Homo sapiens: one gene and its partners. The protein of the gene in region 4 purifies or fractionates together with the protein of the main gene of each other region. This does not show direct contact. Each region holds a gene or a part of one and is shown on either strand. Other genes may lie near its edges. The genes, in order: PIP4K2A, GRAMD1B, POTEI, MAEA, EML3, NAXD and SYT1.

Evidence for each region.
Region 1: the proteins of MAEA (region 4) and PIP4K2A purify together in Homo sapiens (co-immunoprecipitation; one large-scale study listed by IntAct). This does not show direct contact.
Region 2: the proteins of MAEA (region 4) and GRAMD1B purify together in Homo sapiens (co-immunoprecipitation; one large-scale study listed by IntAct). This does not show direct contact.
Region 3: the proteins of MAEA (region 4) and POTEI purify together in Homo sapiens (affinity purification with mass spectrometry; one large-scale study listed by BioGRID and IntAct). This does not show direct contact.
Region 5: the proteins of MAEA (region 4) and EML3 purify together in Homo sapiens (co-immunoprecipitation; one large-scale study listed by IntAct). This does not show direct contact.
Region 6: the proteins of MAEA (region 4) and NAXD purify together in Homo sapiens (co-immunoprecipitation; one large-scale study listed by IntAct). This does not show direct contact.
Region 7: the proteins of MAEA (region 4) and SYT1 purify together in Homo sapiens (co-immunoprecipitation; one large-scale study listed by IntAct). This does not show direct contact.

Annotation. Positions count from the first base shown.
Region 1 is NC_000010.11:22,585,579-22,589,078, reverse strand, and holds part of PIP4K2A (phosphatidylinositol 5-phosphate 4-kinase type-2 alpha), read left to right. Parts: intron 1-3,500. UniProt on the Homo sapiens protein: Catalyzes the phosphorylation of phosphatidylinositol 5-phosphate (PtdIns5P) on the fourth hydroxyl of the myo-inositol ring, to form phosphatidylinositol 4,5-bisphosphate (PtdIns(4,5)P2). Has both ATP- and GTP-dependent kinase activities.
Region 2 is NC_000011.10:123,604,769-123,608,268, reverse strand, and holds part of GRAMD1B (protein Aster-B), read right to left. Parts: intron 2,948-3,500; coding exon 2,791-2,947; intron 1,661-2,790; coding exon 1,471-1,660; intron 1-1,470. UniProt on the Homo sapiens protein: Cholesterol transporter that mediates non-vesicular transport of cholesterol from the plasma membrane (PM) to the endoplasmic reticulum (ER).
Region 3 is NC_000002.12:130,474,829-130,478,328, reverse strand, and holds part of POTEI (POTE ankyrin domain family member I), read left to right. Parts: intron 1-1,627; coding exon 1,628-1,698; intron 1,699-3,377; coding exon 3,378-3,422; intron 3,423-3,500.
Region 4 is NC_000004.12:1,317,391-1,320,890, reverse strand, and holds part of MAEA (E3 ubiquitin-protein transferase MAEA), read right to left. Parts: intron 1-3,500.
Region 5 is NC_000011.10:62,606,276-62,609,775, forward strand, and holds part of EML3 (echinoderm microtubule-associated protein-like 3), read right to left. Parts: intron 3,422-3,500; coding exon 3,354-3,421; intron 3,203-3,353; coding exon 3,079-3,202; intron 2,858-3,078; coding exon 2,687-2,857; intron 2,531-2,686; coding exon 2,461-2,530; intron 2,378-2,460; coding exon 2,267-2,377; intron 2,022-2,266; coding exon 1,926-2,021; intron 1,547-1,925; coding exon 1,391-1,546; intron 825-1,390; coding exon 683-824; intron 1-682. UniProt on the Homo sapiens protein: Regulates mitotic spindle assembly, microtubule (MT)-kinetochore attachment and chromosome separation via recruitment of HAUS augmin-like complex and TUBG1 to the existing MTs and promoting MT-based MT nucleation.
Region 6 is NC_000013.11:110,629,045-110,632,544, reverse strand, and holds part of NAXD (ATP-dependent (S)-NAD(P)H-hydrate dehydratase), read right to left. Parts: intron 1-3,500. UniProt on the Homo sapiens protein: Catalyzes the dehydration of the S-form of NAD(P)HX at the expense of ATP, which is converted to ADP.
Region 7 is NC_000012.12:79,294,774-79,298,273, reverse strand, and holds part of SYT1 (synaptotagmin-1), read right to left. Parts: intron 2,206-3,500; coding exon 2,038-2,205; intron 1-2,037. UniProt on the Homo sapiens protein: Calcium sensor that participates in triggering neurotransmitter release at the synapse. May have a regulatory role in the membrane interactions during trafficking of synaptic vesicles at the active zone of the synapse.

The DNA of each region.
Region 1 (3,500 bases), on a different chromosome or scaffold from region 4:
GCATCCTTTGACTTTACAAAAATCACGATTTGAAATGTTTTCTCTGGGTTAGTTATTGTAACCTAACATAGGGATTTGACATATCCCCAGTGTTACATAAAATAAGTGTGGGATCAAAATAAGTCTATTGACACCTCCCAGGGGCTTTAACAGTATAAAGACTTCCTTCTGTTCCACTGCTACAAAATTGTTATCTTATTGGTGAGTTCTTTATTCAGAAAAGTCTCCTTTATCCAACATCTATACTTTTTCTTTTTATAAACAGAATATTTTAAATATAATTTGTAGGGTCTTAATGATTGGGAATCACATTATTAATATAAATTATTTAAAGGGCACTAAGTAGAAGTCAGGAGACATAGATCCTAACCTGTTAGGAACTGCCTCTTGGATGATCTCTGAACTCAGCTTCTGCACCTGCATTTCATTCATTCATTCATTTATTCATGTATTCACTCTTGACCTTATTCCAGAAAGGATTTAAGGTGGCCTTCAAAGAAGTTGGAAATACAAGCTAGAATAAATGAAAAAAAGAAAAGGAAGAGGCAGAAAGATAAAGGCACAAAATGGAGCCTGGAATGAGCGTAGATATTCATGCCAAGATGACCAGCATGCTTGATACTTTGAGTCTGTTGCCAAGGAGAAATGTAAGTGGTCTTGGTACTAAGATGCAACAGGGTTGACTCTAAGGAGTTCCCCACAGAGCGGACACAGGGACATCTGACCTGATAAAACAACATCCTTGCCACAAGCTGAGAAACATACAAGAATGTTAGAGAACTTAAAAAAAAATTGTCCGTATAGGCTGCTAATTATCAGTATAGGCCATGTATAAATACAGCCACAGTTGCAGCACCGTTTTGCTAATTTGTCCATTTTTAAATTACATTTAAACGAAAGCAAATTAAGAACAAGGAAATGTATAGGTGACACAAACGTTGACCATTAAAGGTGGACATGCCACTCATATACATCTCAGCAAAATCTCACATAGAAGAGGTTTTTAAAAATACAGCAGCAGTGAAGAGTAACAGTGTTAATTACATGATCAGAGAATTCCACAGAAACCTCATAAAAGGTCTCAACATTCACACAGCTTATTTGATACTGATCTATTCGGGGTGACCCCTGCTAGGCTCACTGAGGGCAGGTCTGGGACCCTGCTCAGGTTGGCAGGTGTTCATGAAGGAAGATGCAGTCCGCCGAGTCAAACATCACACCCGCAGCAATTAGCAAAGGCCACACCAGTGTGTAGTTTACATTTAGTAAATGCTGTTCTACAGAGAAAGGCTATAATGCACACCGGCTGCCTAGCCCTCTCCCATTCTGGCTTCTGTTTGAATGTTCTTCAGGCTGTTCTTCTTGTATGCCACTTCCAGACGAGATTTTGATGAATATTACTGGGTGGTGGGCTCAGCCTGGCATGTCCTCATGTGATTCTGTGTGACCGGACACAGGCCTGTCATTGGTAAACCCAGGGAGGCCTGTCAAGCTTTGTGTTTCTATCCCTGTGGTTTGAGATGCTCAGAGGTATTTGAGGTATATGTCAGGCCTTCATTCCTACTTTCTGTGGGCCTAGAGTACTTTTAGGGTTTGTATCTAAGAAACTTTCTCTCTCTAGCTTCAGTAGTGATCATCATTTCTTCTGTTTCTTCTTGCTTGTTGTTGCTTTTGCCTTGGAACTCTCTGGGCTTCTGAACCTTCCGAATCTAGACAAGTAATGCAGATCGTTCAGGTGCATATCAGTTGATGAGAGGCTCTCATAGAGGGTTTCTCCCGTGGAGTGAATTGCATGGACTTTCTGACAACTTTGGTTACCCAACAGCCCTTTTTTTTTTCTTTTCCTTTGTTGTTTTTTGTTTTAAGGAAATGCAGCCACAGTTGGAATTATATTCTGGAGGGTTAAAATTGCCCAAGGCCAGCCTCTGGAGAAGTAGAACATGGCTAGTTATTTGAATATTTGAATAAATTCTTCCTAGGTTTAATTTTCTGACACACTGACCTTCCCAGCAATCTGGGATGGCAGGTGGTTCAAGAGCAAGGACTTGGAGCCAGCCAGCCACCTTCTGGTCCCAGCCATGCCCCTGGCCAATGGCATGACCTTGGGCAATTTACTTATACTTTTGACACCTCTTGGTCTATAATATTTGGATAATAGTACCCTCTTCATTTGGGTGTTGTGCTAATTAGGTGAATTCATATTATAACATGCTCAGAGCAGTGTCTAGTATATAAGAAGTGCTAAATGGGCCAGGCGCAGTGGCTCACGTCTGTAATCCCAGCACTTTGGGAGGCCGAGGTGGGTGGATCACCTGAGGTCAGGGGTTCAAGACCAGCCTGACCAACATGGTGAAACCTCATCTCTACTAAAAATACAAAAATTAGCCAGGCATGATGGCACGTGCCTGTAGTCCCAGCTACTCGGGAGGCTGAGGCATGAGAATCGCTTGAACCCAGGAGGTGGAGGTTGCAGTGAGCCGAGGTTGTGCCACTGCACTCCAGCCTGGGTAACAGAACGAGACTCCGTTTCGAAAAAAAGAAAAAGAAGTGCTAAATGAGTGACTGAATAAGATTTTTAATTAAATATCGTTCTTGTATTTAATTTCCTACACCTCAGTGTTGAAATCATTCTCATGTGGCATTCAGTCCTTAACTCTTTTAATCCACTAGGGGGCCTGGTTTCTGGTAGACTGTGGCACTGATGCAGAATTACGAAGACTTCAGCCGTGAGGAGTTAGATTTTTCCCCCAAGTTCCAGTATCTTGCTCTATTCTTTATTTCCTGCCCAAATTCTACCCTAGCTTTCACTCTGTGCAAAGAAAGAAGAGCATCATCTCTCAGACCAATGGAGAATTCATATTAAGCACAGCAAACTTTCATAAATTTTGTTTACTTCATTTGATTTTCTCTTGTAGTTGGGAAAATAATGTTTCGCTATAAATATCCTTTTCACATTTCTGTTAGGCTGTAAGAAACTCGGATCCTATAAATGATGATTATCAGTTGATTAACTAAACAATGTTAGAACATTCAAAAAGGAAAAAATGGTAAAAAACCTATTTGCCTACTTGAATATCTTTTTATCTTAAATCGACTGAATTTTTTTTTTCCCCGCACTGACGTGAATTCATTGGGAGCTTTGGTATCATGTAGCTTCAACTTGAATTAAAATTGAAAAGTATTGACTGGACACAGTGGCTCATGCCTGTAACCCCAGTGCTTTGGGAGGCCGAGGTGGACGGATCACTTGAGGCCAGGAGTTCAAGACCAGCCTAGCCAACACAGTGAAATCCGGTCTCTACTAAAACTACAAAAAATTAGCTGGGGGTGTATGCCTGTAGTCCCAGCTGCTCAGGAGGCTAAGGCATGAGAATCCCTTGAACTCAGGAGGCAGAAGTTGCAGGGAGCCAAGATGGCATCACTGCACTCCAGCCTGGGTGAGATTCTGTCTCAAAAAAAAAAAAAAAAATTGAGAGGCACTGTTGGTAACATACTTCCCT
Region 2 (3,500 bases), on a different chromosome or scaffold from region 4:
CGACAACAAATTGTAGTTGTAACCCATGGCATAGGTCTGTTCGAGGGAACGTAGACTAATCTGGAAGAATCAGTGTACAGAACTGCTGCTAAGGCTGGGGCTGGTCCAATAGGCTGTGATCCCTAACTACAGTTCCATAAGACAGCCTATTTCTACCATGATGTCAATACCTACTCCCCTTTTTAAACTTAGGATTACAGCTTCATCATATAGCAAAATAAGAATTCAAATCAGAATGAGAGGCACACAGAGCAAGGTGTGGGAGGGCTCCAAAAATGGAGCTTCCTTCAGTCTCAGGGATGCAAAGCCCTTCTGGCACATCACTGTGTCCATATACAGAAGATTGCCAGCCAGGGAATTTCACCTGTAATCTGAATTTTCCAGCTGCTACAGGAGGATGCAAATGAGGATACAGGAGAGCTGCTAAAGCCTCAGTGCTCCCCCCCGAACCCTTGGCACCCCTCAGTCCCTAATTACTGCACCTGCATGGGTGGGTATGTGATCTCAGGAGGAGGCTGCCATTTCTGGCACCCCTAGGACCCTGAGGAAACCAGAGAACTCTGAAGTACCCTGTAGGGGTCAAGTCCTATGACTGCACAGATGGGTACTGCACAAGTGCAGCGCAGCGGGTATTCACACCTTAGTTTATGTGAAAGGCACCCTGGAGTTAGGCAGTATCTAACCCATGCAGTCACTTGTGCCAACCCTGGACTCTAGATGGGGGTGGGTAAACCAACCAAAAGTTAGAAAACCACTGCAGGTGGCCCCTGGGAGAGGTGTCCACAGATCCACAAGTGAGCACCGTGCTCATATGCTCACCAGTCATAACAGACCACTCACTCAATGGAGGAAATCCATCAATTGATTTCATGAATGCTGAGAATTTGGCTTCTCTCCATGGAAGGTAAGCAGCAGCATGTTCCCAAGGGAGGTTCTAGAAGCTAATCCTATGCAGGCATGAAGTTAGAAGCTACCTGCTTACAAAAATTAGAGAAACAAGGGAGTCTCCAAACCCTATTTGACCCAGCAACACCTTTTCTTCTAGCTGGGCCTAAATACCCCATGCAGCAAAAATTGCATTAACAAGTTTCGCAGCTATCTTGAGGACGTTTCTGTTAAAATCTAATTATTTCCAGGGAGCAGCTGACTGGCACCTTCCTTGTGGCTTATAAACATTGCCTAGACTTGCGTGTCTGTGAGGGTCAGGGTCGCAAGGCAAGCCAATGTCAATAGGGGGAACATTTAGTGACAAGACTAAATGACAGAACAAAGCATTATCTATGGGAGGCTCCTACAGCAAATGACTGAAAACAGGGATGTAAACTAATAACAGGTACCTTTTGTTAAGGAAGCTCTGCTCCCATCTCTCCACCAGGAACCTAGAGACTAACTACAGTCCCCACATAGAGATCTCCTTTTAGCCTTCAAAACAGAGCAAGGGCCACTCCAGACCCATTTTCAAATGCCCACCTTCATCGTGTGTGTCGGAAGAGTCACTGAGCTCAGTGGGGATGTCCTCATTGTCATTGAAGTCCAGTGAAGGGGAGTTCACAGGAGCGATCATCTCAATCTTCTCCCCCATGATGTTGTCAATGGCGAGCTCCTTTTCCAGGGACCCGTCTCCCTCCAGCGCCTCTTCCTCCAGGGGCAGCCCATCAAACTGGAGCCAAGACAGAGGAGTCACCCACCAGGGAAACCTGGTCTGGATCTATTCTCCAAAGGGAGATTAGGGATGCAGCCTTGGCAGCTCTCATACTCCCAGCTCAGCTGCTCAGGAGCGAAGTCAGAGTCAGGCTCCAAAGCCCTTCCCCAGAGCTGCCACAGAGGATGGGCAAACACAGTACAAGGACTACTGCACTTCTCACGCTCGCCATTCCAACAGCACAACAAGCTCCCCAAATGCACAGAGCTGGTCCCCACAGGCCCAGGCCCTTTCCTGGAGCCGCACCTGCACCATCCTGCAACAAGGTCAGCCTGCCTCCAGGTAGTACCTGTTTATCCTAAGAAGCTCGAAAGGCTTCATAAGCATTTTTTAAAACTCATTCTCTCATTAGCCCTGGAAGGGAATCGATACAACTCTTTACATTTTAAAGATAACCTCAGAGATGGAAAATAAAGACCAGGTATCCAATGAATAATGTTTTCATTCTGAAGGCAGGTGGTCTGATCCATAGCCTACTGAAATACAAGGCTCTTTGAGGGAGTCCTTTCCTGAAGAACCCTACCTGTTCTTCTGCCTGCCAGCACATGCCCTGACCCTCTTTCCTCATCAAGGTTCTACCTCCTCTATTAACAGAGTCCCACAGGACAGAGGTTCTCTTACACATTTTTATGGCTTCCATAAAGTCTACCACAGTGGAGAAATAAGCCACAATACGTATACTCAACAAATATCAACCAAATGAGTGGATAAACAATTAATTGTTCTATAGTTCTATATTCATGCATGACTTTGACGTCAGATCAAGGCAGTGAAAAAATACCTGGAATTGTTCTCTACCAGAAGGGCTGATCAGCAGCAGCCCAGCACAGTGGGCTTGAAATGGTTTTCATCTGCTCAGAAGTCAAACCCAGTCTTGTACCCCAGGCACCTAGCCCCAGCTCTGGACCCCGGGCTATGCCACTAGAATACGGAGAGCCCATCTGCTCCAGAATGCCTCCTTGAAGAAACTGACAACAATGTAACCAATCTCCTCTCTACCTGCTCCCCAGATTGGGTTCCCAGTGAACTATGCTAGGAAACGCTGGCCACAGGACTGGGGGTAGAAGTCAAAGGCTGACTGCCCATACCGAGACGGGGGCCTCACTGCTCCCTGTGGATGTTAGTGTGCTGTTGGTGATGGATTTCTTGGGCAGCTGTGGACTGGCATCTGGCTTGGTCTCTATGCTGCTCTTGGATGAGCTGTCATTCACTTCATTCTCTTCCACAGGGATCTCTTCACAGTATCTGAGAGGAGACACCAGTGAGTCCACATTACCCTCAGTGGTTCAAGATGGCCAACTATTCTAAGAATCTCAGACCTTTCTATCCATCCATATCTATGAGATTTCCTGCTTCTTTGCTTTGTGTATGATCTTCCTCTAACCAAAAATCCCCTGCCTACCCCATTGCTCTTCTGAAATCTCCTTCATATCCCACCCCACCCCTCCCTGCCCCCCATGTAAAATTCCTGGCTGCAAACTCACCTTTCCTAGGCAGCCTCCTTAGAGTTATCCCTACCTAACTGAAAGGATTATTTGTCTTAAGCTATTTTTTTTCCATGGGTGCCCATCCTATTTGAAGCCTCTGAATCAAATATCTGGGTTCTGAGCATGCATTTCCTTTCCCAAACGGTGACGAAGACAGGACTCTGGACATGAGCGCTCCTTAAGTGGCATTGCCCAAATTCTTGATGATAACTAGAAAACTTCCCTGCATTATACACCTAGAAAGAAAACCTCCTTGAGATGAAGGTGGGTGCTCGTCGAGGAACACTTCAGGGATGCCGCTGTAGCCTCCT
Region 3 (3,500 bases), on a different chromosome or scaffold from region 4:
CACGACTGTTAATTGTATTCATATGCACTATAACTTTACAAAGCATCTTCCCAAACCAAATATTTACTGATTTAGTATAATTTGTATGACTTTATTATAGAACTGACTTTCCAAGTGTTCATGAGAATTGTTTAGTATTTGCTACATTGTATCATCTCAGCTGTGTCCACATGAGCTATCTGTCACCTTGTCTTAATGAATAATTGTTCACTAGGAATATTGGTTTTGGCATTGAAATGATCTATATCTAAATGCAGATAGGACCCGGGACCACTTTTGAACATTAATGTCCAAGCATCTTAAAATTACACATAAGGCTTTCATAATCTGACTTCTGCCCCACTCTCCATCTTTAGCCCTTTTCCCTGTGTGCACTGTCTCTGGCATTACTGAGCTGCTGGCAATGCCCTACTCACTCATCCTTCTATTGTAGGCAAATACTTTCACTCTTTCAGGCCTCGCTCCCGCTCTTGCTGCTGCATGGTATGCCGTCACCCTTTCCTGCCCTCTACCCCTTTTAATCTGGCTAGTCTCAATATTTAAGTCTCTGCTTGGGCATGTGTTCTAGAAAAGCCATCTCTGACAGGCTTTATTTTAATTCTTTTTAAACCCTAATGCCTAGCATGTATTTAGCAGGACTCAATAAAATATTTCTGAGTAAAACAAAGACTGTTTTTACAAAGATGATGTGCAAGACTCTCCCCTGCAGTCTTGGAGCAGAGGGGACAGACATGTGGAGGAATAATGTACAGTTTAGGTGGTCAAGATGCAGTAGAAAAATCAGTAAAGTACTAAGGCAGCCTCAAGGAAGGAGGTACCTGTTTATTTGGGGAAAGACATGCAAAATCAAGGAAGACTTCACATAGCATTGTTTCAAAAGATGAAAATAAGGCCAGGTGTGGTGGCTCACACCTGTAATCCCAGCACTTTCAGAGGGGATCACGAGGTCAGGAGATCGAGACCATCCTGTCCAATGGTGAAACCCCATCTCTACTAAAAATACAAAAATCAGCTGGGTGTGGTGGTGCTTGCCTGTAATCACAGTTACTCAGGAGACTGAAGCAGGAGAATCACTTGAACCAGGGAGGCGGAGGTTGCAGTGAGCTGATCATGCCACTGCATTCCAGCCTGGTGACAGAGGAAGACCCTGGTTCATAAAAAAAAAAAAAGAAAAAAGAAAAAAAGAAAATAAATTTGTCAGAATAGTGGAGGGAAACATTTTAGATATTAGGAAGACGTTGTACACTAATAAAGGTGTCAGCAGTGATTTTGGAAATCATTTATAAGGTACTATTAGGAAGTGGAGAACAGTACACTGTGTCACCTTATATGTTTCTACTGTATTTTAAAGCTGTGTTTCTGGTGGTTTTGTTCATGGATGTTGGGTGGATGAATTTGTGAGGGAATTTTTGACATGTTTGTTTGTCTTCAATCTGGTGACATCTGGTATCTCCCCAAGTGGGTTTTTGAAGTTTTTGAGAATTATTTCTTAAATGACAATTTCACAAAAGATGAAACACTCAATTTATGAAATAAAATGAAATGTCTCAAATCCGTTTTTAAAAGGCAATAGTTTTTAACTGTTCTAAGTGGTTGATTTTAACTGAATATATGGATTTTTCAACAGAACAAGACTTAAAGCTGACATCAGAGGAAGAGTCACAAAGGCTTAAAGGCAGTGAAAATGGCCAGCCAGAGGCATGGAAACTTTTAAATTTAAACTTTTGTTTAATGTTGTGTGTTTTTTGCCTTAATAATAGTAGATAGTCCAAATGAAATTACCTTTCAGACTAGGCTTTGAGAATCAGTAGATTGTTTTTTTAAGAATCTTTTGGCCAGGCAAGGTGGCTCACGCCTGTAATCCCAGCACTTTGAGAGGCTGAGGCAGGTGGATCACGAGGTCTGGAGATCGAGACCATCCTGGCTAACATGGTGAAACCCCGTCTCTAGTAAAAATACAAAAACTTAGCTGGGCGTGGTGGCGGGTGCCTGTAGTCCCAGCTACTCGGGAGGCTGAGGCAGGAGAATGGCATGAACCCAGGAGAGGGAGCTTGCAGTGAGCCGACATCCACCACTACACTCCAGCCTGGGTGACAGAGCAAGACTCCATCTGAAAAAAATATATATATATATTTTAATAGGTTCTTAAAATTTATTGTAATAAAATCAGCAACCTTCTTAACAGAAGAATCAATAGATTCTAATTTAATATTTGATATTTAACTTCAACATAACCCACTATAAAATTTAAAATACTCTTATTTTAAAATATTCTTATCTGCCTTCTTGATTAGCTTATAGCTAATCTCTCCTTTTGGAATAGAGGCAAAAACAAATTTCAGAACTTTGTTTGTTCTTTTATTTTTACAACACCCTAACATGATAAAGAAAGTAACATCAATGATTGAATCATATTATTAAGCAATAGGAATTATGAACAATGTAACACTGATTCCCTGAGCTGGATTCATGGTTAAAGAGTAATCATGGCCTGTGATTGAAAATCCACAGTTTTATATTGTCAGTCACTGATACCAAGGTTAAGGACATATCCTGCCTTGTGGTCTCTCGTTGACCTCAGTGTTTCTGTTCAGGGAGGGAACCAGGTCATAAAAGCAACCCAACTGCCTATTACAAGAACCATATCTTGCAGAATGGGACCTTTGGTGTTAGTGCACAAACACAATAACATTCTAATTTATTTCAGTTGCAGAAAATCAGTACAGATTAAAAAATTCTATCTGCTGTCATTAGTACACATTAGAATATATTAGAACTGGACTTACGCAGATAATCTGGATACATAACACTATCATATGACAGTATATAATTTCAATTAAAATGTGAGAATTTGCATTTCTTTCTGTTTGGTGTTGATTTCGGCTCCTAATAGTTTAAAGGGTGCCTACAATCCAGTTAGGAATCTTTTAAAAAAGCACTTCAGTGCACTGTAGGGGCTCACTAGTTAGGGTTTCATGAGGTAAACTCTTTTCAAGTGAGGAAGATTTTGGAACACTACAAATCATCTGCTGATTCATTTTTGGTAGATTTAACACATAACAAATTAAGTTTAGTCCAAACAAATAGTGAGAAAGTTAAGTTTGCTGGTTCATGTTTTTCTTCTCCCTTTGTCTAAGGTGAATTATTTTTCACATGTTAGAAGCCAGTGATGTGGCAGTAGCTAAACATAGATTAAAAAGTTAATTCTTAATTTTAATTATTATTTATTTAAACAGTTTAATTTTAATTACTTTCTAATTTTTATTGTCCATACTTGATTACTTCAGAATAAAATTATTTTAAAAACATGCACTCCAAAAGAGGAAATGTCACAGAAATACAACAAGCAAATTAACCTTCTGTTTTTACATCTGCAGAAAAGATCTCAAGAACCAGAAATAAATAAGGATGGTGATAGAGAGGTATACCTTTATATTCAAATGTTTGTGTTGAATTAGATTTTTACATTATGTTGTTTAACAAAGTGTAGTAAATGTAGG
Region 4 (3,500 bases):
CTGAACTCGTGATCTGCCCACCTTGGCCTCCCAGAGTGCTGGGATTACAGGCGTGAGCCACCGTGCCCGGCCTCTTGCATGTTTGCTTTGATGATTTCTTTTCTGAAGCCCCTTCATAGCGTTTTCTTGCATGTTCGCTTTGATGATTTCTTTTCTGAAGCCCCTTCATAGCGTCTTCTTGCATGTTCATGTTGATGATTTCTTTTCTGAAACCCCTTCATAGTGTCTTCTTGCACGTTTGCTTTGATTATTTCTTTTCTGATGCCCCTCCATAGCGTTTTCTTGCACGTTTGCTTTGATTTCTTTTCTGAAGCCCCTTCATAGCATTTTCTTGCAGGTTTGCTTTGATGATTTCTTTTCTGAAGCCCCTTCATAGCGTTTTCTTGCATGTTTGCTTTGATGATTTCTTTTCTGAAGCCCCTTCATAGCGTTTTCTTGCATATTTGCTTTGATAATTTCTTTCTAAAGCCCCTTCACAGCGTTTTCCTGCATGTTGATGATTCTTTTCTGAAGCCCCTTCATAGCATTTTCTTGCATGTTTGCTTTGATGATTTCTTTTCTGAAGCCCCTTCATAGCATTTTCTTGCACGTTTGCTTTGATTTCTTTTCTGAAGCCCCGTCATAGAGTTTTCTTGCACGTTTGCTTTGATTTCTTTTCTGAAGCCCCTTCATAGTGTTTTCTTGCACGTTTGTTCTGATGATTTCTGAAGCCCCTTCATAGTGTTTTCTTGCATGTTTGCTTTGATGATTCTTTTCTGAAGCCCCTTCATAGCGTTTTCTTGCATGTTTGCTTTGATGATTTCTTTTCTGAAGCCCCTTCATAGCGTTTCCTTGCATGTTTGCTTTGATGATTTCTTTTCTGGAGCCCCTTCATAGCGTTTTCTTGCATGTTTGCTTTGATGATTCTTTTCTGAAGCCCCTTCATAGCGTTTTCTTGAATGTTTGCTTTGATGATTCTTTTCTGAAGCCCCTTCATAGCGTTTTCTTGCATGTTTGCTTTGATGATTCTTTTCTGGAGCCCCTTCATAGTGTTTTCTTGCATGTTTGCTTTGATGATTTCTTTTCTGAAGCCCCTTCAGGGCAGGCGAATGTTGGGTCTCCCACAAAGTCTTACTTTGTTTTGCAACTTGAAAAACCATTTTTTTTTTTTTGAGACAGGGTCTCGCTCTCTTGTCCAGACTGGATGGAATACAGTGGTGAGATCATGGCTCACTGTTGCCTCAAATTCCTGGGCTCAAGTGATGCTCCCACCCTGGTCTCCCAAAGGCCTTGTTTTGTAGTTTTGCTCTAAATTTCAGGAGGTGGCTCCTGGTCTATATCCTGCCTCATGTCCCGTCAACACAGCCTCGGGGTCTGAACCCAGTTGGATCTCTCTTACTGAGGGTTTCTCCAATGTCCGGGTCTCCGGTTGTGAGAGTCACATGAAAGATGTGAGGCCAGCTGGCAGCAGGCTCGTACGTCAACTGAAACTAGAAACCATCTAAGTGAACTGGTTTTCTGTCTCACACGAAATGCTCATGCTGACTTTTGTTTGTTTTGAGACAGGGTGTTGTCCTGTTGCCCAGGCTGGAGTGCAGTGGTGCAATCTTGGCTCACTGCAGCCTCCACCTCCTGGGCTCAAGTGATCCTCCCACTGCAGCCTCCAGAGTAGCTGGGACCCCAGGCACCCACCAACACTCCCAGCTAATTTGAAAAAAAATTTGTAGAGAAGGGTTCTCACTTTGCTGCCCAGGCTGGTCTCAAACTCCTGGGCTCAACAGATCCGCTCGCCTCAGCCTCCCAGAGTGCTAGGATTACGGGTTGAGAGCCCTGCGTCCAGCCTAAGGCAGCACAGGCAGGCGCACAGCACCAGCCACACTGAGGACTCTGTTCTGCCCCTCCTGGGCAGCCTTCCCTCGGCAGCAGGCTTCCTGTCCTGTTCCTGTGTGGCCTTCCCTGGGCAGCAGCTTCCTGTCCTGTTCCTGGGTGGCCTTCCCTTGGCAGCAGCTTCCTGTCCTGTATTGTCTGGGACCTTGCTCCAATCCAGAGCATGAGGTTATTTTCCTAAGTTTGTCACGTCTCCAATTTTGGTGCACAGGAATTTTGGTGCACAGGTAGGAAACTGGGGTCCCACGTGGGAATTCCATGGCGCCCCCTACAGGAAGTCCAGGTCTGACCAGCGCAGCCGGGGTTTACATTTCCACAACCTGGCAGCTCCCCCTCGGCCACAGCAGCACCTTCCCCAGGGCTTCCTAGTGCCATGGTCACCTGTGGTCAAAAGCGATTCCTCAGCTCAACGCCCTCCGGAGCATCTCAGCAGAAAGAACCCCTCCCCCGCAACCCAGTCCTCATGGGCTCCACACGCCCGCCTTCTTCCACACAGCAGCTCCAGGCCCTCTTTTGGACAGACATGCTCAGGGCACCCCAACACCTTGAGTGTAGCCCGTCTCACCCTGCTGAGGCCTACTCCAACTGGCCTTAGAATCATCAGCACTCCCATATCCACCCTGCTCTACGCACTTCTGTGGAACGCGTGGCCTGTGCCCACCACAGGACCCCCTTCTTTCACTTCACGTCTCTCTCCCCCAACACAGCGCACATTCCCTGGGGCCAGGGGCACCCACAGCTCATGCTTCAGCAGCCACCGCCAGGTTGCTTGGTCACACCCCATGGGTCCCAAGGACAGTGTGCTGGGCGTTTAGGAGAGGATGGCTAGGTCATCTATGAACACACGGGGGGCCGCCCCAGGCAGCCAGGACATGTGGGCAGCACGGAGCGAGGGCCTGTGCATTGGGGGAAGCCGGGCACACGGGGCCAGGGAGGCGGGTGGGTGGGAAAGGCATGTGGGACAGGGCACCGGAGCGGACATGTGCTGGCCCACTGTCCGTCACATGAGCCTGGGCAGGTGCAGGTGAGAATGCCCTTCCCTGACACCCAGGTGGAGGAAAAATGGCACCAGATGGGGGCCACAGCAGCCCAGTGGGCAGCACGGCAGAGGCATCACAGACGACCCCGTCCAGCGATGAGAATGTTGGGTGCACACTGGAGTGGCTGCGAGTCATGACCTGGAGACTTCGGAAACTCAACAAGACTGCAGGGCACCCAGGGGCACCAGCCCCGGTCACCGCAGAGGATCAGTGCACTTTGCCATCTGGCAGATCAACTCATGGCACAGCTGTGACACATCACATTCACGCTTGTGAACCGAGACGCCATACCCCAGCGGTGCCGAGAGCAACAGTGCTGTGCAGGTCTGGGCAGATGAGGGCCTCCAGGACACGAGGACTCACTCGCTCACCCTGCCCACTGGGCAGCTGCTCGCCACTCCCCTCCTGGAGGGCAGGACGGACACCACACACACACACAAGCAGGGAGGCTGTGCAGCAGTGGGGAGAAGGCATGGGTGGGAGGGTGCCGCTCCACCCAGGGCAGCATCTGAGAGAAGGTGAACGAGGTGCGGGACAAATGCCGAGGACAAGAGCCAGCAAGAGGGTGGGGCCAGGTGGGTCTGCGGGTGAGTC
Region 5 (3,500 bases), on a different chromosome or scaffold from region 4:
AGCTTGGCTGTCGCAATACAGTAAGAACTCCCAGCCATTGCATGCACTGACTACTATGTCTCATCCTCATACTGCCAACACATCTGTTATTCTCCCCATTTTACAAACAGGACAACTGAGACTCACAGAAATGAGGTAACTTCCTAAAGGCAAGGCAACTAATAGCAAAACTGGAATCTGAACCTGAGATCTGGCAAACACAAAGCTCCAGCCGTTTCTCCTTTGCTGTGCTGCCCACACGCTTCTAGACTAGCCCCCAAGAGAACTATCAACTCTCAAGGTAAAAAGGTGGGAAACCTGGCTGGGCGCCGTGGCTCACGCCTGTAATCCCAGCACTTTGGGAGGCCAAGGCGGGCGGATCACCTGAGGTCAGGAATTCGAGACCAGCCTGGCCAACATGGCAAAACCCCATCTCTACTAAAAATACAAAAATTAGCTGGGCGTGGTGGCGTGTGCCTGTACTTCCAGCTACTTGGGAGACTGAGGAAGGAGGATCACTTGAACCTGGAAGGCAGAGGTTGCAGTGAACCAAGATCGCGCCACTGCAATCCAGCCTGGGCAACAGAGTAAGACCTCATCTCAAAAAAAAAAAAAAAAAAGATGGGAATGGGAAACCCTCTCCTCTGTTCCCACAGAACCTCTGGAGTACTACACTTCCCAGATGCCCCTCCCAGCCACATACCTTTGGCGCCACCCCTGCCTGGGGTCTTGGAATCTGAAGGGCTCCGCCCCCAGGTGAGAATGTTCCCCTCTGAGTCTCCAGTGAGAATGTCTCCATCCGGAAGGAACACAAAGCAAGGGATAAACTTGGGTTTCTTGTATTTCTAGTGGGAGGGGAGAGCAGACAGTAGAGGTCAAAGGGAAGGGCAAAGATTAAAAGTCGCAGGGCAGGCCAGGTGCAGTGGCTCATGCCTGTAATCCCAGCACTTTGGGAGGCCAAGGCGGGCGGGTCACCTGAGGCCAGGAGTTTGTGACCAGCCTGGCCAATATGGTGAAATCCCGCACTGCACTCCAGCCTGGGTGATAGAGCAAGGCACTGTCTCAAAAACAAAAAAAACAAAAAAAAAACGGGCATGATGGCCAACATGATGAAACCGTATCTCTATTAAAAATACAAAAATCAGCCGGCGCGCATCTGTAATCCCAGCTACTCCGGGAGGCTGAGGCAGGAGAATTGCTCGAACCCAGGAGGCAGACGTTGCAGTGAGCCGAGATCTTGCCATTGCACTCTGGCCTGGGTGACAAGAGCAAGACTCCGTCTCAAAAGAAAAAAAAAAAAAGGTCACAGGGGCAGGTGGGGGTTAGGGAACCTCAGGGTCCATAGTACTCAGCCCAGTGCTTCCTCTTCCACTCTGCCCTCCCCATCACCTTCCACTTATCCATGCCTCACCCCAAAGACACCCTGTTTCCGGGTAAGGGTCCCATTCCCAGGAACCCCTACTCCACCACTCCAATTCCAGAAGTGGACGTGAGATTTCCCACTGGTGACGATGCAGCTGCTGTCACGAGGGTTGAAGCCAACGGCCAGGACTGAGTCATTTGTACTCTGAAGGGAAGACACTAGATTCAGCCACCCCAAGCCCTGGGTACCTTCATTCTACTTGACTCTCCTCAATTTGCATCATGACAGCTGGCTGGCAGAGGTCCAGAAACCCCAGGACAACCCTTCTTTCAAAACCCTGGTCCCCTAAGAGCACTATTTCCTGTCAATCATAATTAATCACCCTAATACCTAACACATTATGCCTCATGAGGTCAGAACCCATGTCACAAATGAAGAAACTAAGGGTCAGAGAAGCTAGGAGATTTGCCCCATGTGACCCAGCCAAAAAGGAAGGAAATGTATGGGTGAGTCTGGAGCTCCCTGCACTCCACCACTCCCACCCCCAACCTCAGAGCCCCTCCAAGCCACATGGACTCCTCACCTTGATCTCAGCCAGCTTCATTCCCCGGCTGCAGTCCCACACCGACAGCATGTGCTCATTGGAATCATCCACCACACAAAGAAAGGCACCCTGATCCTGAAGAAGGGTGACACATAGGAGGTGCAGAGTGAACCCTGGAGGTCCAGGGGTTCATGGTCATTAGGTTAAGAGGTACCATCACAGATGGAGAGGGCAGAAAAAGTTGACACACATGGCCCTTTCTCAAGAGAACCAGCTGGGTGGGGTTCAGGAAGGCCAGAACTTCCAAGGCTTCCTGGTGACATGCAAGAGTGGGGTTCCTAGGCAAGAATGGGGGTCTAGAGGCTTCAGGGCCAGCTCACCGCAGCTGAAAAGGCCAGGGCCCCAACACCCCGCTCGAAGGCCCCCAGTCCAATCTCCTGCAGTTTCAACAGCGTCTCTGAGTCCCAGATGTGAACCACAGGCTGCAGGGGCTGGTGGAGGAAGAGTCACAAGTGTGAAGCAAAATTGGAGTGCAATTCCAGCATGTCTGCCTGCTCCCTGACTTTGGCCTTACCTTTCCATCCTTATCCACTCCAGCTGTCTGTCCCGAGGCTACCCGAACACCATCAGGGTGAACAGCAAGGCTAAGGCAGGGGGAAGACACTCTAGGGAAAGGGTCTCTCAAGACCATCCAAGACACCTTCTCCAAGCTTGCAGAGCAGCAAGGCAACTCTTTTCTCCTGCTTCTCCATCCCCCCAGACCCTCTTCCTGCCAAGCCCACCAGCCCCGGACTCCTCACCATCGAACGCAGTCTGTGTGCCCCCGGTAATGTCTCTGGCCGCCACCTCCAGGACCCCCTGGGCCTCCTCCAGGCCGGTACAGCACCACCACACAGGCGATAAAGTAGACCACCTCCCCAGAGCGCAACACAAACAGATTAGAGCGGGAGTCACGACCCCTGTACCCATAACTGGGGTGGAGATCACGGTCAAGGAAAGGGTTAGATCAAGGGCAGGAGGAGGAAGAGGGGAGAAAGACAGAGCTTCTGGCTGGCAGGGCCTAGAGCAGAATGATGGTAGGAGAGGATCTAGAAGGCTCCTTGTCCCCACAGACCCAGGAGGAAACTGTAAAGGTAAGAGGGGTCCCAAGGTGAGAAAGGTGGTTCTCATGGGACTGGAAGGGGCAGGATACACCCAGTCAAGGCTGAGGGTCTCTGGCGGTGGGCCACTCGGCAGCTCCTCAAGGCTGCGGATGCCAGACGGGATGTACATGGTAATGGGGCGCCCTCGAAGGAACATCTTCACTGAGATGCCTTCTACAGAGAAAAGGGGTGGTGTCAACTACCCCCTTCCAGGAAAGACAGAGCAGAACCCTACCCACCACACCTACCCAAAATAGCTCCTGGGGCTACAGCCCAAATCCTAACCCTGCCATCCAAGTTTTCCTCTCTGTCCCTCTTTACATACCCAAATTGTAATTGCTCCTCCGAGATCCAGGGCCCCCAGGGCTGGAGAGGGGGTCTTTTCCCCCACGGCTGTTGGGAAGAGAGAAAGCACAGGGATTGGGGTCAGGTCCCAAGACCTAAGCGGGGAGGGGCAGGACACAAGAAAAGA
Region 6 (3,500 bases), on a different chromosome or scaffold from region 4:
TAGCTCAGGGATTGTAAACACACCAATCAGTGCCCTGACAAAACAGGCCACTCGGCTCTACCAATCAGCAGGATGTGGGCGGGGCCGGATAAGAGAATAAAAGCAGGCTGCCCGAGCCAGCATTGGTAACCCGCTCGGGTCCCCTTCCACGCTGTGGAAACTTTGTTCTTTCGCTCTTTGCAATAAATCTTGCTACTGCTCACTCTTTGGGTCCACACTGCTTTTATGAGCTGTAACAGTCACCGCGAAGATCTGCAGCTTCACTCCTGAAGCCAGCGAGACCACGAGCCCACCGGGAGGAACGAACAACTCCAGACGCGCTGCCTTAAGAGCTGTAACACTCACCGCGAAGGTCTGTAGCCTCACTCCTGAGACAGAGACCACGAACCCACCAGAAGGAAGAAACTCCGAACACATCTGAACATCAGAAGGAACAGACTCCAGACGCGCCACCTTAAGAGCTGTAACACTCACCGCGAGGGTCCACGGCTTCATTCTTGAAGTCAGTGAGACCAAGAACCCACCAATTCTGGACATAAAAATACATGCTAAGAATAATTTAAAGTATTGAAAACTAAAGCCGTGTATATTAAATGAAATTTGAAAGCTGACAAAGCATTAGCTGCTCGCCTAACAAAGTGCTCATTTCAGCCTGTTTATGACGCACATTCCAGCCATAGGAAAGTGTGTATTTGGCTCTGACACTGGTCCGAGCATTAGCAGTGTGTCCTGAAGCCCCTTCCAGGGAGGCAGGTACCTGAGACTTCATGGAAGTTTATTATTCCCTTTATTAACAATAAAAATTCTTTGTCTGCTTGCCCTGAGTTTGGCTTTACTGTTAAAACTGGCAGGCTTTTGCTAATTCAGATTTTAGATCAGTTTCTGATTTCATGTTGCAGTATTTGGCAACAATCTGACATTTTCATCTGTTTCTGTGTTTTCTTTTAATGTATTTGCAAATAGTACTCAAAAGTGAATATTCAAACCCTGGAAAATGCAATGTTACATGGGTCTCCTAGAAAGGTTTGCAGCATCAGAGCACCCAGCGCAGAAGGGTGTCCCCACCCATGGGAAAGCAAACCTTGGTACACTAGGGAGAAATCTGGGGGCATCTCTCAAAAATTTAAACGTCCTTACTCTGATTCAGCAATGGAACTTCACCCAAAAGAGTGCACAAAACACATAGATTCAGGACACCACTGATGTTAACATGAAGAAAAAGCTGAAAACAGTGTAAATGAACTAAATACACTGTAGTAGATCCATAAATTCTGATGTGGCTGTTAAAAATAATGAGTATCCACATATCCTTCCATGAAAAAGTCTCCAGGACACACTGTTAACGAGTGTGCAAAGAGCACAGTGTGAGGACAGGTGCATTGGTCAAGAGCCTGCGCTCCAGATTCAGACAACGTGGGTTCAAAGCCAGCCCAGGAACCAGAAGACTTAATGTTGTTAGACATTCCCCCAACTGATCTTCAGTTTCAACATCATCCCTACCAAAGTTGCGGCTGCCTATTCCACAAATCAGCAAGCTGATCCAAAACTGGAATGCATGGGACCCAGGAGAGCCAAAACAACCTTAAAAAGAGCGAATTTGGAGGACTCGGGCTTTCGACGTCAAGGCTTCCTACACAGCCACAGCAGTCAAGACCGGGCAGTTGCAGGACAGCTGTACAGATCAACAAAACAGAAACAACAGTCCAGAAATAAGCCTTCACATTTAGGGTCAACGGATTGTCAGGGAGGATGACAAGTTGGGAGGAAAAAGGAGTCTCTCCAGCACATGGTGCTGCAACAGCTGGACACCCACAAGCAAAAGACTGACGCTGGAGCCTCCTCCTACCACACCAGCATCAGCTCGACATGCACCGCAGAGCTAAAGTAACAACCAAAACAATAAGGCTCTTAACATGTAGGAGTAAACCTTGGGTTAGGCAGAAGCTTCTGAGATAAGACACCAACAGCACAAGGGACAAAAGAAAAAACAGCTAAATTGGACTTCAAAATTAAAAACTGTGCTGTAAACAAAACCATCGAAGTGAAAAGACAACCTACAGAATGAGAGGATATCGGCAAATCGTCTCTCTGATAAGGAACCTGTGTCTAGAACGTATATGAAGAACTCCTAAAAGTCAATAAAAAAAAGGCAAAAAACAGTTTTCAAAGTGGGGAAAGGGTATGAATAGACACTTCTCCAAAGAAGATACCCAAAGAGGCCAGGCATGGTAGCTCACGCCTGTAACCCCAGCACTTTGGGAGGCTGAGGCGGGCGGATACCTAAGGTCAGGAGTTCGAGACCAGCCTGGCCAACATGGTGAAACCCCATCTCTACTAAAAATACAAAAATTAGCTGGGTGTGATGGTGGGCGCCTGTAGTCCAAGCTACTTGGAGGCCAAGGCAAAGGAATCACTTAAACCCAGGAGGTGGAGATTGCAGTGAGCCAAGATCACGCCATTATACTCCAGCCTGGGTGACAGAGTGAGAATATGTCTCAAAAACAAAACAAAACAAAAACAAAAAAAAAGATACCCAAACAGCCAATGAGCACATGCAAAGATGCTCAACAGCATCAGCTGCCAGGAAAACGCAAACCAAACCACAGTGAGGTCGCTCCACGCCCACTAGAGTGGCTGCTAAGTAGACAACAACAGTAACAAGTGCTGGGAACGATGTGGAGAATCAGAGCCCTCGCACACTGCTAGAGGGAATGGAAAATAGTGCAGCCGCTATGGGAAACAGTGGCAGGGCCTCAAAATGTGAAACACTTAACACCCAGGAGAGTGAAAACACATCCACACAAAAAGTGGAAACCAATTTTCCATAAATTAATCAACAGATAAACCAAAGGTGGTGTATGCATACAGTGAAATATTAGATATAAAAAGGAATGGAATACTGATACATGCTACAACACAGGTAACTCTAAATATAAAATTATGCAGAGTGACATAACTAATCACTAAATAGCACACGTTGCATAATTCCATTCATATGAAATGTCCTGAACAGGCGAATCCAGAGAGACAGAAAGCATACTAGCTGAGTGGCTGCCAGGAACTGGGGAGACTGGGGAACAGGGAGCAGATGCTAACGGGGATGGGCTGCTTCTGGAGGCAATAAACATATTCTAAGGTTGATCATGGTGATGGTTGCACAACTATGAATATACTTGAAGCCACCGCATAGTTCACTTTAAATGGGTGAGGGGTATGGTAGGTAAATCATCTAAATAAAGTCGTTTTTAAAAAACCATCTCTGCAGTTTCTTTGCTACCAGATCCCACGGGCGTCTTGAATCCTTGCCAGGACTCAATCTGTCATCAGAAGAATGGGGCTATGAATAGGAATCTACCTAATCGGGTTGTTTTCAGGCCTACACCAGATGATGACCTCATTCAGGAACGTCGACGAAGTAGGAAGCCTCTGCTCCGCACCAGACACGAGCTGGAAGCTGACGAGGAGGCGGCAGCCCACGCTAGATGACCTGAGGGCTCTCA
Region 7 (3,500 bases), on a different chromosome or scaffold from region 4:
AATGGAAAATAAACCCTTCCAAAGAGCTGACTCTCAAAGAAAGAAACAAAATTTTTTAGAGTAAGGATAAACCCTTGAAAATGTTATTGTATATCTAAAATCTCTCTAGACTTTCTAGTGATTGTACTCAAAGAGCAACAGTCAAAAACCTGGACTTGGGGTCAGACAGACCTTGTACCAGATTTGGACTTTCCAACTAAAGGGCCTGGGGCACGTGATTAAACATAAGTTTATTCATCTATTAAATTGTGATAATACTGTAATAATGGCTGCTTCATGGGGCTATTTTAGGGATGAATGAATATATGTAAAACACCTAGCACAGAAGAAGCACTTAAAAATATTTATTGTTTGAATGATTAGTAGCTCCTTCAGATAACTGTTTTGGGGGAAAAGAAGATGAATTAATTTGGGGCATGTTGAGTTCCTGTTAAGTGATTTAAATCCATTGTAAAGCCAGGCTTCTTTAAAGTCTTTTATACTTCCATTCCTGTATCATATTGCCTCTTGGCATTTCAAGATGAGTAATCTACAATGTCTAACCAGTTCTCTAGAAAAATTGAAGTATTTTTTAATATAGCAGAATATATTATACTTTGGATTTATGTATAGTTTGATCAACCTTTCTGAAATAAAATGAAACTTGATAAAAATGTATAGAGAATTCAAAAATTTCAATAATTATACTTGGTTTTATAGAAATTACTAATAAAATTATTAGCATTTTTTAAAGAAATAATAATGTAGGTAATGCAATACAAAACAAAGCCCCAATACATTAGCTCATATAATTTAAGAATTTCCTTACTAAGTTTTGGTCAGAAACTGCTGACCTAAGTTAAGGTTAATAAATAGATGAATAAAACAACTGTGATTACTATTACAATATTTTTAAAATTTTATTTCCATTTTACGTTTCGTAGTATGTTGACTATAGTGATTAAGCTTCATGAGCAGATACTCTTCATGAACTGAGTATTTCCAGAATGTCTTTACTGCTACTTTAAATTCACTGCTTAGGTACAGAAAAACCAGATTTTAAATAAGATTACTGACAATACATGAGGGACCTTTGTCTTGAAAACTCAGAAATTTTAGAGTGAATAGAAAGACACTTCCCCTTTACATAATTGAAAACAAGGTTTGAGAAAATGACTCATGCCCTCATTTTCAATTTATTTCATCCCAGAATGTTTGCCAACACAAGGCATATGCTAAGCCTGGCTGATGGACGTGGTGATTTTGAATTAGCCTGCTGGCATATTCACAGATATTTCATTTTTCAGAAACATATTGTTCTAAGTAATGCATTAAAAAGTTTTTTTCGCACGTTAAAGATATCCACCAAAAGAATTGTTTTTAATGAATGATTTCAAGCCAAGATCCACGAAGATCCTGGAGACCTGCAGGACATGTTTTCCTGATGAGATATTATATGGCTGGAATCTCTCTGTTGTTTGTCAACTGAGGTGCCTCAACAAGATGAAGAACATCAGGGCAGAACCTAGAGTAAAGGAAGAAGGCTAGAAATGCAATAAAAAATATGTTCATATTCCTTTTATTGATTAGTTAAGAAGAATGACTTTGAAGTGCTCAAATTGCCCTCTACACACACAATTTTGTTACAAGAGTCATGTCTATTTGTACCATTTAAGCATTGGGACACAGCTTACTTAATCCTGGGATTGTAACAGATGTACTTATTTTCACAAACTTTGAAATTCAGAAAAATAATGATTTCATTCCTTTGGCTTTATTTCAGGGAGGGATCTCACTTTTTAGATGTGACTATGACATCCTAGTCATGTTCTAGTCCATTCCATTCTGAAATGACTGAACCGAATCCTACTCTGAACACGCTGAAAGGCAATATCGAATGTTGACTGTAGTGAAGATAAGAATTTTGCATATTCTGACTGGAATTATTGTGAGTGCCTGAACAAGCATTCATGTGCATGTCTATGTATGTGTCAGGATGAGATCAGTCTTTTAAGTAAAACAACAAAGGAAAGGTTATAAATAAATGTTAACAAATACCTTGAAAGTAAATTGCTCATTGAAGACAGGATTAAGGGTTTTTCGGTGGACTTTTGTCTCAAATTTCTTCTTCTTATCAGGTAGCAGAAACACTTTCACGTAAGGATCAGATGTGCCCCCCATGTCCAAGGCGGGCAGTTCGGCAGCCTGAATGATCCCTACCAGCAGCTGAAATAAATGACAGAATACAGCATACATAAATATCAGTGGACATTTTGGAAAAGATCGATTTGTTCACAATGCTGCATATTGGGATTTCTCCCTCTTCCTATTTATTTTTAATAAAACTCTGATTCTCTTATGAATCTGAACACAGAAGGCAAATGAACTGAGCTATGTAGACTTCAGAAACCCAATTATGACTGATGCAGGCTCTGGGAAGCCTGGTTTTAAGCACAAAAGAGGCTTTTAAAAGGTTGCTGATTGCAGTTAAATATGGAGTTCATTTTTGCAAAAGAGTTGTAATCAAATAACTTTCCAGTTGCTAAAAGCTCTTGTGCATTGTTTTTCTTTCCAGAGCATGATTTGTAAGTGAAAATGCATTGTTAAGCAATCACAAGTTTGTAATTACAAAGTGGGAAACTTTTATTCTTTATCAAAGCCTCAGGCTAGCTGAGTAGAAATTTCTTAGAAATTGGGTAGCATTTTGAGATAAAAAATAAGATCTTCTAGTTTCTATTATATTTGACCTTCACTGGTGTGCAGACTACATTTATTTTAACTTACAGTAGAATGATTATTATCTATGAGATTCTGTGTTTAAATATAGGACACGGAGTAAAAGAAATGTAATTTCAGCTTCATAGAAAGCAAGGGAGATTAGAGGTGAGGTTTTTTAATGGTGAGTAACTGTGTTTTTTATTTTTTCCAAACACCACAGAACTATTACATTTCTTTAAGTCTGTTTTCTTACTGATGCATTCTTAAGCCTCATTATGAATATTAAGGTATTATGGTATGGTTAATATTTTTGCGAAGAAAAAAAGAGGTGTGAGTAGACTATCATAGATACTCTGCCATTAGAGATTTTGTGTCAACAGACTGATTTAGATCCATATAGGTAACAAAGCAGACTCTTACTGTTATTCAAGGTATATGCTATTTTGTAAATGCAGTAACACCATAGGTTTTTACATCTCAGCCTGAAAAATCTGAGTTCATGCCTTTTTAGCTAGTAGAGTAAAAAAGCAATTCCCCCTCTTAAAAAAAATGCATAACCATTTTAATTGTGACCCACCGTGTACTTAAGTGCATTTTGGCTAGGTGGCTCAACTTTTAACATGGCCCAATAACCTGAATGATTATGTTGTTTCTATTTTAATGCTTCAATATCTTTTTTTTTTTTTGTGGAATCATGATACAACAGTGGCAATAAGAGTGCTAGATTGTAGGTAAACAAAACACAGACAGATGGTCAAAAAACAGCTAAAATAGGCATCGGATTATAAAGACATGATTAGTAA